2 linked regions of the Homo sapiens genome follow. The protein of the gene in region 1 interacts with the protein of each later gene in a pairwise test. Each region holds a gene or a part of one and is shown in the gene's direction. Other genes may lie near its edges. The genes, in order: SGSM3 and RAB39B.

What was found.
Region 2: the proteins of SGSM3 (region 1) and RAB39B interact in a two-hybrid assay, tested with the Homo sapiens proteins (one study listed by BioGRID).

Annotation. Positions count from the first base shown.
Region 1 is NC_000022.11:40,365,736-40,373,593, forward strand, and holds the start of SGSM3 (small G protein signaling modulator 3), read left to right. Parts: upstream 1-4,858; 5' UTR 4,859-4,953; intron 4,954-7,858. Other genes in the region: ADSL (adenylosuccinate lyase), read left to right, coding at 701-763, 1,734-1,883. UniProt on the Homo sapiens protein: May play a cooperative role in NF2-mediated growth suppression of cells.
Region 2 is NC_000023.11:155,257,515-155,261,802, reverse strand, and holds the end of RAB39B (ras-related protein Rab-39B), read left to right. Parts: intron 1-573; coding exon 574-1,000; 3' UTR 1,001-3,568; downstream 3,569-4,288. UniProt on the Homo sapiens protein: The small GTPases Rab are key regulators of intracellular membrane trafficking, from the formation of transport vesicles to their fusion with membranes.

The DNA of each region.
Region 1 (7,858 bases):
TGGTGTGCGCCTGTAGTCTCTGCTACTCAGGGCTGAGGCGGGAGGATAGCTTGAGCCTAGGAGGTCAAGGCTGCAGTGAGCCATATTCATTCCCTTGCCCTCTGGCTTGGGTGACAAAATGAGATCCTGTCTTAAAAAAAATACAAAGATGAATAGATAATCCTCATCTTCAGAGAGCTCAAAACTTAGTGGTGAATACTTGTAAATAGGTCATTATGATACCAAGCAGTACGTGCAAGGACTGAGGGCTAAAAGACTAAAACTGGAGGTAGGAGACCAATAAGGAGGCTACTGCAACGGGCCAAGCAGTAGATGATGAGAGCTTGAGTGAAGGCAGTGGTGAGAGACACAGACCGGGGAGGGAGAGGAGGTTAAGCTCTTGGTGGCTACTTGAAGAGGGCTGGGAAGCAGGAGGAAAGAAGCTGTGGTGATTTTTAGGTTGGATGGAAATGGTGAAACCACCTGAGAGAACACAGGCTGGGCCAGTTTGCGGGAAAGGTTGGTGAGCATGTGGGCATGGTGGTTGAATCATCTGTGTCTAGGCAGAAATTCCTGATAGGCAGTTGAGGAAAACAAGCTCAGTGTTGGAGTAAAAGCTTCATCAAATTAGGTTTCAGTGGTATCCCCTGACATTGGAAAAGGTATTATCTGCTAATATCTTAACATTTTCTTTTGTCTTGTATTTGCTTTCCTCTGGCAGGTGCAGAGATTCTTAGAAGAGGAGGTGTATCCCCTGTTAAAACCATATGAAAGCGTGATGAAGGTGAAAGCAGAATTATGTCTGTAGAGTTGGAAGAGAATTAAACGAAAATCATTGTTAATTGCTGAGGCATGAAAATTGTGTTACTATAATGCCTTATTTTACCTCGAGAATTGTTACCTTAAATTAGTACAGCACTTTCTTCTTCCCATGGTGCTTTCCTGTTTCTCAGTCTCACATTTCTCAACAAGGCAAAAACAAAGAGCGTTGAAGTTGACTCTGCTCTTGCATAGTAAATGTAGTTCATACTTGATCTCTGTTCTTTCAAGGCATATTTTCCAGCTGCCTCAAGTTTAGTCCTTTTCACGTGTTCATTTGCTTGTAAAGTAGCAAGAAATTTCTGGTCCTGTCTTCTAAAAGTGAATTTGATCTAGGTCTAGCAAAATAACCTGGACTCAGTGATTGAGTCAATGGTCAGATACCTTTTATTTCGGTTATTTTTGGCTAGTATAAGTGATGAAGTTTGGAACTACAGTAAATACTTAAAAAAAAAAAAAAAAAGAACCAAACCCTGATGTGACCATCAGGCTGATTGAGCTGAAGTTGTGCCCAAGCTCATTTCATCTTTTGATAAGGCTTATACAGCAGGGAAATGCTAATTGAGTATATTGATTTCATCAGGGCCGCTGACAGTCTTTATTCCTTGTTGCATGGATTTTGTTGTTGAGGCTTGCTCTGTCACCCAGACTAGAGTGCAGTAGCACAATCTTGGCTCACTGCAACCTCCGCCTCTCAGGTTCAAGCGATTCTCCAGCCTCAGCCTCCCAAGTAGCTGGGATTACAGGCGCCTGCCGCCATGCCTGGCTAATTTTTGTATTTTTAGACGGGATGGAGTTTTGCCATGTTGGGCGGGCTGGTCTTGAACTCCTGACCTCAAGTGATCCGCCCATCTCAGCCTCCCAAAGTTCTGGGATTATAGACATGAGCCACCACACCCAGCCTAATCTTGTTTTCTTTTTTTACTTGTTTACAGTGTAAGCAAGTGCCATTGGACAAGAACGTTGTCTGTGTCATTCCTTGTTGTATTTCCAATAGCAAGAGCACATCAGATACTTGGCAACTAGGCAGTCTTCCAGCTTCTGCCACTGCGCCCGACTTCCTTGTTGCATGGATTTATAGCTGATTGAAGCAACTGTAGCCAAAGATTGAGTTAATTACCTACCTGCCAGGAGAGCACTAGTGTTATTTAGCCCATTCTCATCCTACATATTTTTCGGCATAGATGAAAATGAAAGCTTTTGTTTATCAGATTTGCAGATGACACAAAACTGGGAGAATTAACAAGTATGTTTATTTGGTAAAATAAGTTTTCATCTCTAACCTAAATCGGCTGAAATGATGTGTCCTAAACTAGAGGAAAAAGTTAATAAAGATCAATGTAAATAAGTTAATCTTAAACTCAGTATGCACCAGAACTGAGAGAAGACTGTTTTAGGAGGTGTTAATGGTTGTCCAGTGCCCAAAAAGCCACCAGAGGCTTACTGCTCCGCACTCTTGGCATTACATTCAATTTTGGATACCCAGTCTGAGGAATAGAGATGAACTGGAGAGCCAACCTCCAAAAAGATCTTGTGGTGGAGGAATGTTAGGGCTCTTTATCCTATACAGAAGAAAACTCCTCGGCACTTCAAATATTGCCAGGTGCAGGAAGAGTGACTTGATTGTGTGTTGCCCCAAGAGACACACTGAGCTCAATACCCATTACTGAGACTGGCTTGGGGCCAGACATTGGAACCACTGAGATTAGCAACCTACACTCAATCCCCCAGGTCAGGCAGAAGCTGGAAGACTGCCTCGTTAGGAATGTTGTGAGGGAGAGGAGGCTGAATCGGTTCCAGTTTTATTTAAAAGTAGCCAGGAAATCAGGTTGCGATGATGCGCATTTACAGTCCCAGCTACTTGGGAAGCTGAGGCGATAGGGTCACTTGAGCCCAAGAGTTTAGTCCAGGCTGGGTGACAGCGAGCCCTTGTCACTTAAAGCCAACCTAAGAGAAGAGCTTATCCTTTTGGAAAAACAATAGAAGACAATTCTGAAAACCAAATTCTGAACATAGGCTAGTATAGCAAGCAAGCAGGGATAGCATAGAGCCATTTGCTCAACTTCCAGAAAGAGTTACTCTGTTCATCTCTAAAAAATCTTGAAAAGGGCCGGGTGCGGTGGTGGCTCACGCCTGTAATCCCAACACTTTGGGAGGCCGAGGCAGGTGGATCACCTGAGGTCAGGAGTTCGAGACCAGCTTGACCGACAAGGTGAAACTCCGTCTCTACTAAAAATACAATCAACCGGGCGTGGTGGCAGGCGCCTATAGTCCCAGCTACTTGGGAGGCTGAGACAGGAGAATTGCTTGAACCTGGGAGGCAGAAGTTGCAGTGAGCCAAGATCATGCCACTGTACTCCAGCCTGGGCAACGGAGCGAGACTCCATCTGAAAAAACAAAACAGAAAAAATCTTGAAAGGATACTAAGTCTGACACAAGGAAATTAAGTCATGGGACTCTGACCAGATATTCTGTCTACTTCCTTCTCTGCTATGGGCAACTTGGAGGCAGCAACTACTATCAGTTTATCTGTAATGTGAGAATTTATATTACATAACAGATACTGGGGATATAGGATACCATGGATTTTAGTTAATACATTTCCTCATAGAAAATAAGGAAATAACAGTCTTGTTCCTGTCCTAACAATTCTGTTAGACTAATGATCTCCAGTGATTGGCGATTTGACCTGGTTTCTTCCTGGACTATTTGAATGGGTGGATTTGTTGGTGCATCTCTTGTCTTCTTTCCTTTTCCATTCTCCTTTATTTTTGTATTTACATACTTGTATGCAACTTTGTAATCTGATTTTCCCATGTAACATTTTAATTTGATGGGTGGTCTGCGTGTTCACTGGAAAACATATATATATTAAATGTACATTTATGTATATATATAAAATATACATTCATATATATTATATATAATATACATTCATATATATTATATATAATATACATTCATATATCTATCTTTTATATATATATATAGACAAGATCTTGCTCTGTCGCCCAAGCTGGAGTGCAGTGGCATGACCACAGTTCACTGCAGCCTTGATTTCCTGGGCTCAAGCGATCCTCTCACCTCAGCCTCTTGAGTAGCTGGGACTATGGCACACACAACCACACGTGGTTCATTTTTTGTTGTTTTTTGTAGAGACAGGGTCTCACTCTGTTAACCCAGGCTGTTGTATTTTCTTTAAGATTGGTTTAAATTCACACGGACTCCAGCATCAGAACTACCCAGATGTCAGGTTCTGGGCAGAACTTGGGGCAACTGATGAAATGTCTGCTCAGCTGAAGTCAGACACCTGGACACTTAATGCCCTCTTTCCCTGGCTGATGCTCAGTTTCATTTAAGAACCAGGAGAGCCTGATGTTTGTAAACACAGCTTTAGTGGAAGCACGAGGGTTAGGAGTCCCTAGAAAGGTGATATGAAGCCTAGGTGGATGTGAGGGTTGGTGAGATGGGAATTGCACAGCATAGAATCTGACACAGAAGGTACTCAGAAAATTTCGTTTTCCGGCCTGGCGCGGTGGCTCACGCCTGTAATCCCAGCACTTTGGGAGGCTGAAGCGGGCAGATCATCTGAGGTCAGGAGTTCGAGACCAGCCTGGCCAACATGGTGAAACCCCGTCTCTACTAAAAATACTGTACTAAAAATACAAAAAAATTAGCTGGGCGTGGTGGCGGGCGCCTGTAATCCCAGCTACTCGGGAGGCTGAGGCAGAGAACTGATTGAACCTGGGAGGTGGAGGTTGCAGTGAGCCGAGATCACGCCACTGCACTTCAGCCTGGGTGACAGAGCGAGACTCCATCTCAAAAAAAAAAAAAAAAAAAAATTAGCAAGTTATTTGCAGCGTCTATCTCCCACCACCCTGACTGCTGGTCCACACCATACTGTCCCAAGCTTCTCAGGCTGCGGTGCAGACGAAGAAATCATCGCTATGCATGCTGGCCTTGGGATGGGGGCGCAAAGCCCCTGGACGCGCCCCGCCTAGTGGGCGGGAACGACTACAGCCCCCAGCATGACCCGCGGCCGCCCATGCCACGCCCCGCCACGCGTGCGCTTAGGCGCCGCTGAGCGCTGACTGGGTGCGAGTGGGGAAGCTGCTAACCCGACCCGGATTGGCGCTGAGGTGGCCCGTGGGGCAGGTGAGTGCGGGGCGGGAGTCAGCGGAGACCCACCGGCGCCTACAAGTTCCCCTCAGGCGGGGGCTGCGGGGCGGCTGTGGTCGGACTGTCCGACCGAGGGTCGTATGGGCCGAAGGCGCCCACGAGAGAAGCACCGCCTCGGGCCGGAGAGCCGCCGGGCCGACCTTGCTCGCGTCGCCGTTGGAATGGGGGCCGGGGACGCGGCGGGGCGGGGAGGTCGGCTGCGTCCTCCGGTGCGGCCGCCCCTAGACGGCCGAGGCCACCTCAGGTGTTCGGGGCGCCAGCCGGAATCCACCGCGCTGGCAGCCGGGAGCGGTTTTACGAAAACCGCGCCTGAGGCGGGGGGCTTTCTAAAAAGAGCCTGGCTGGCTCTGGCACCGGGACAGCTGCAGACTCCTCCTCAGGTTTAACTTGCGGTTTTCCCTTTAAGATTCAGATCCAGGTGCAGAACCCGGGCTCGGATCCAGGCCCGAGACTCGGAACACCGGTGTGTTTGCATTTTAGCACGGGGGAAACTGAGGCATACGTTAGCCAGAATCATCCGGTGTGGTTAGGACTGGAATTTTGAAAATTATTCTCATACTTAGTTTACTGACCTAGGCTCTTTTTTATTTGGAAAGAAAAATAAAGATGTTTCAAAGGTTGTTTTCAGTGACTGGGTGACTAGTGTATCTTCCAGTCTCACGCTGCACGTTTGTGGTGGGTTGATGGCTCTTTTTTGTTTTGCGGTGGGATAGAGATGTCCTGGAATGTTCTACACCTTTCTTATTCTTTCTTAGTAAATTCAAGTCAAATCAGACTCTGATTCACAAAAACTCATTTTCAACTTCGACTCGTTTACTCGTAGTTTTTGTGACAGGTTTGTGATTAGGTTTATAGGTACATATGTTTCCCGCTTTTCTTGCTCTTTTAGTTCCAATTATCTCTGCACTCTAAACAGTTGAATTACATCTTTGTTTTTACACTATTTCTGTTCTTGGTGATTAATTTGTAATTCTTCTTTTCTTTTCTTTTCTATTTTTTTTTTAAGACGGGAGTTTCGCTCTTGCCCGGGCTGGAGTGCAATGACATGATCTCGGCTCACTGCAAGCTCCGCCTCCCGGATTCAAGTGATTCTCCTGCCTCAGCCTACCGAGTAGCTGGGATTACAGGCGCCCGCCACCACGCCCGGCTAATTTGTGTATTTTTAATAGAGACGGGGTTTTTCGCCATGTTGGCCAGGCTGGTCTCGAACTCCTGACCACAGGTGATCCGCCCGTCTCGGGCCTCCCAAAGTGCTGGGATTACAGGCGTGAGCCACTGCGCCAGGCCCGATTAATTTGTAATTCTATAGATATCTTTCCTGGCTTTTGATAATCCTAAGTGAATGTAGCTTTTTCATCCCTAATTATCATAGTAGCCTGAGCTTTAGTTCTTCTCCCTGTCCCCCCCCCCTTTTTTTTTTTTTTTTTTTTTTGAGACGGAGTCTCGCTCTGTTGCCCAGGCTGGAGTGCAGTGGCGCGATCTCGGCTCACTGCAAGCTCTGCCTCCCGGGTTCACGCCATTCTCCTGCCTCAGCCTCCCGAGTAGCTGGGACTATAGGTGCCCGCCACCACACCCGGATAATTTTTTGTATTTTTAGTAGAGACGGGGTTTCACCGTGTTAGCCAGATGGTCTCGATCTCCTGACCTCGTGATCTGCCCGCCTCGGCCTCCCAAAGTGCTGGGATTACAGGCGTGAGCCACCGTGCCTGGCCCTCCCTGTCCCTTTTTAAGCGTGGAGGTGTGTGGTCTGGGAGGGGAGAGGGTGAGGTGTCTATTGATCAGATATGGGTAATAGGTTAACATAACCCATGACCAGAACATTAAAAGGCTGTAAACAAACAATTGCTTCAATATAAAAACGCATACCTCGTGAATTTGGAAACATGTCAGGTTGATAGAAAAGTGAACTCGGGTAGAACCTCACAGAAATGAACCCGACATTAGGGTGAAATATTGAGAAGGGAAGGGAGGAGATAATCATCTCTTTTATTTTACAGCCATCTTTCTATGCCTGGAGTGGATGTAGGAACAGCCTGCTGGCTCAGAAGCTTAAAAAAAGCTCTGTGTGTTTTCAGTTTTTCTCTTCTTAGTTCTCAATGAAGGTTTTGGCAGGAGCCCAAAATCTTGTACATTTGATAATTTAACATCAGTTTCATCTGCTTACTCTCCAGATAGCCTGTTATTCAGCTGGTGACGTCAGTAATTTTCCACAGCAGCCATTCATGAGCTCATGCAGACTGTCACAAGGAAATGGGAATAGCACAATGAGTGTTACAGAAGAAAAAAAGATCCTGTTTCTTTGCCATCACATATTATACACAGACTTAGGGAATCTAGACTGGAGCACAAGATATGTGGGAGGGGTTAGAACACCACTCCTACCTGTAGTAATAATCATTGAAACCACTTATTGGATGCCTTCTGCTTACCAGACACTAGTTGTCACAGGTCACTGTAAGTGACAGGGCCAGAATTTAAGTCTACCTGACTCTAAACTCTGCTCTTTTGTCTGTGCTGTACTACCTTATCAACAACTGTGTTCAAGTCTTTCTCATTCTTAAAAATATATGAAACTTTCCTGTGATCATATTTCCCTTCAAATTACTACCATTTCTCCTGCTTTTCCTTTCTAGACTTGTCCTTAAGAAGCAGACTCTACATTCTTCTCTTCCATTTACTCCTTCATTCATTGCAGTCTGACTTCTACCCTCAACTCTGTTGAAACTACTCTCATGAATTCCTCTCAACGATTTATTGAATATCTACTGTGTATATCATCTTCTAGACTTATAAAGACGGCTAAGACATGGATCTTGCCCTCAGGTAGTTTAGAGATTAATGAGAGAGGGTAGTTTATACATGTCAATGTATGTTTCCCACT
Region 2 (4,288 bases), on another chromosome or scaffold:
AATGATAAATGGAAAAAATGGAGTAGCAAGATACCTACTTTAAATATTTTGTTAACTATCATAAATTCATTTCTATGTTTTAAAAATCCTGTTTCAACTGCTAGCATTTGTAATGAACTCTCCACGTCACAGAACACTTTAATATCCATTGTTTCATTTTGCCTCATGGTAACACTGTGACTTGGGTATCCTATTTTGCAGAAAAGGAAGTCTCTGTCAGTTATTCAGATTTGGGGGGTGGGAGAGTTAGTTGTAGTTTTACCTGAAGGCAAGAAATAGAACTCAGTTATGTCCCAGGGTCACTCTCCAGTGCTGAATCCATGGAAAATGCCTAAAAGTTCATGAACATTCGTTTCTAGAAGATGCCCATCTCAAAGTTTGGCCCAATTGGAAACTCACATATTAGTAGTAGTATGGAATGCCATTTGTATTCCTTTGTTTTTTTAAAAAAAAAGAAAATCATTTTTATTAAAGGACTGTGTCACTAACCAGGAACACTTGAATATACTGAGTTCATTGACATGCAGAAGTTTGGGCACAGCCTTTACTCTTTACTTCTTTCTTGTGTTTTAGATCCATCACTCGCGCCTACTACAGGAACTCAGTAGGTGGTCTTCTCTTATTTGACATTACCAACCGCAGGTCCTTCCAGAATGTCCATGAGTGGTTAGAAGAGACCAAAGTACACGTTCAGCCCTACCAAATTGTATTTGTTCTGGTGGGTCACAAGTGTGACCTGGATACACAGAGGCAAGTGACTCGCCACGAGGCCGAGAAACTGGCTGCTGCATACGGCATGAAGTACATTGAAACGTCAGCCCGAGATGCCATTAATGTGGAGAAAGCCTTCACAGACCTGACAAGAGACATATATGAGCTGGTTAAAAGGGGGGAGATTACAATCCAGGAGGGCTGGGAAGGGGTGAAGAGTGGATTTGTACCAAATGTGGTTCACTCTTCAGAAGAGGTTGTCAAATCAGAGAGGAGATGTTTGTGCTAGTCAGTTCTTTTATTTCCAAAACATGCTCTCCTACTTGAACTGAAAAGTAAGAGAAATAAATAGAATCTTTGTGTAACTGATGAGAACTCAACCTCCATTTGGATACCAAGTGAGCCTCCCTCTCAGGGGGACTCTGACAGACTCGTGTGCGGGTGGATGGGGGTGCCTGAGTGCTGTGACCAAGGGACTGAATTGCTGACATGGGCCAGGCCAGGCACTGTTTTGTGGCCCATGCTAGGCAGTGGCTGCTCCATGAGCCCTTTGTGGACCACATGTTAAAGGCCTGGGGTTTAGGAAGCTAAGTCCCAGGAAAACATACCTACAGACAGGACAACTGTTCCTTGGTATTTGAGCTCACTTATAGGCCATGAACATAAAGAAATACATAAAGGGGAAAAAAGTTTCACAATGGGGACAATTAGCATAACTAAACAAAGATTATGAGCTCTACTTATTCCGTGAGAATACCCTGCACCAAAGGTGTTTGCTGGGTTTGGTTAAAAGGTACCAATTAGCTTTTAACAGCTTTCTGTAAAATGAGGAACACAGACCAAAAGGTCTGGTGTTCAAGTAAAAATGATGTGACTATGGAAAGGAAGGCAATCGACACAGTTATTAGCACATTTCAGAAAATGAACACCCTTGTGATAGAATTACCAGCTGTATGAAACAAATTGTCCCATGCAAATTACCCTATAACTAGGAAAGAGACACTATAACCCAAATGCCATACCCCCTTTTTCCTTTGACCATGCCTGGGGTTTCAATGCCTTGGCACCTGCAATCTGGAAGTAAACAGTCTGCTTGCTTCTTCAGGCACGTGACAGTGACAACACAGTGACTGCCTCTGAAAAGAGCCCTGAGGCAAACACTCTCTCCTGCTGAACAGGAGGCACTGTAACCCTTACAAACAGCTTACAGTTACTTGGGCTACTTATTTGATCATCATAACAGGCCTACGAGGTTTTTGCCCCATTTTACAGAATAGTAAACTAAGAGCCATGAAAATCACTTGGCCAGGGTCAAGGACTCGTGACTCCTAGCTCTTTTCACTGCATCATACTGCTGTCAGATGAATAAATGATTATGAATTTGTTTACTTGGGAAGAGATATGACTATAAATAAATGTTCTCTACATGTTAGGATATGTTTTCCTTATTGATTACAACTCAGCTATAATCCTGAGGGAACATGGGAAGGAATCAAAGGTAAAGCCCATTCAGGCATTATTGACAAGAGGGCTTTAAACAAGTGAATAATTGCACAACTAAAAAGACATTAGAACTGTGTGGGCTATAAGTGTTCTTATCACTGAGACACAGTGGATTTTTATTGAAAGGAACCACGTACAGCAATGCGGAGTGGGATAGGGATAAAATACCCACCCCAAAATGACCTTGGCCACCTGTCTGCCATATACGTACACTGAGTTCCTGTCTACCCAAGAGAGTCAGCCCTTAATTCTCAGGTGAACAAACAGCTAACTGCATCAGCAAATTGGAATGGCTGGCTTGAAGTTTCCATTATTTTCTTGAAGAGAGGTGATGCTTTAAATTACTTTTTGGATTGTAGCCAGTTCAGCTAGGCAAAAGCCATACTTTTCACAATTAAAAAAAAAAACTATTCTGACTAGAGTCAGGTTTCTCATATCCATTGTGATAGGAAGGCCTAAGAATGGCAAATCGCTTTGAGATATAATATTGAACTTCAGTATGAATGTGACCGAATCTGAAACTTTGGGAATTTGCTTTAGCCAGAATAAAGAAACCAAATCATGAAAATTATGGAAGACTATTCTGCCACCTGTGCCCCAAGTTGGATGAGCAAACCACTTTGGATCAGTTCACAGCATTAACTACAAGTGAACTGATCATCTTCTCTATATTCATTTCACAAGAGCTGGCTTAGGTGGGGTAATTAAATTGCCACCTTCGTGGTTGTAAAAGACAAACAAAACATGGCAAATTTCATTAACACAAAATTTCATCAACTGCTATACTGAATTATGTTTAGAAGATTCTGAAAGCAAGATTATCCAGTGGGTAAATGAGAGTCGACTGGATTCTGTCAGTTCAAAAAAGGAAAGAAACAAAACTTCCCTACAATTTTCTTCACTAAAATTTATTATATGTACAGTATTCCCACTCCTGGCATTTTCTGGCAGGTTTAAAAATATTCAGCATAAATCCAGCAGAGGTGGCTGAGCTTAATTGCTTAAATAAGTTCTAGAAAATTTAAAAATCATTTTAGTAGAATTCAGTACCATTGTCACTGCAATAAGTGGGTTTTAGAAAATAAGTGTGAAAAGAATCAGGTGTTAATATAATACTAAGGATAAAGCTTTAGAAGCTATTTTACTACATAGGTAAAGAAAAGATAAACTAACTTGTAACAAAGACCACAACTGCATGTTGGATTAGATTGTCTCATATTTCAGAATAAAATGTACTGTATACTTTTCCTCACTTTGTTGTGCACTGTAATGAAATGTGAAAAATGCTTTATTTAGCTGTATGTGAATGAAAATATGCTTGTATTTAGTAAAATGATTGATTATGTGACTGTGAGATTCCAAGTGTGTGTTATAGCTATTTCCAGAATCTGTTACTACAGCGTAGCAACTACTACCAAGGATATCAATAAGATGTGACATATACCATACACAATCGTATTCACCATTACCTTAAAGCCAGAAAGAGAATATAATTTTTGAAAGTTATCTGACCATCATATCAAAAGTCCCTGGGACCTCAATACTTCCTGGTGAGCATATGCCACTTTGAGAAAAGTTGGTTCTGTCAAGCCTAAATCTTCATCATGATGATTTTTAATCAAGAGTCTTAATTCTGTTGCCAAGTAGTTGATTACAACTATTATGTTCCCTGGAAAGTCTTCTTTTTTCCAGGCTAAGTTGCCTCAGCTTTTTCAAATCCTACTACGGCATGCTTTTTATGCCAGGATCACTTACAGTGTGGCACCAACATAAGAACACAATAGTTCAGCACATTTCCCAGGATTGATAGTACACATGAGGGTGGGGGGAGGGTTAAAAAAAAAAGGAAAGATAATGGATTCTGAGTCTGGGCATAAGTAGATAGGTAGCCTAAGTTCTGTACAGCTTTATCACATTTATATTAATTCTCTTATAGATTTAAGAGACGTGGCTCCAAAAGTCATTGCTGACAGCTCAACCTAGAGTCTTACTCTTTAGTCTTCCCTGGGTAACAATAAAGTGTAGGGCACACAGAAAAGGGAAAGGAAACTTACAAGGAGACAATGAAATCCTG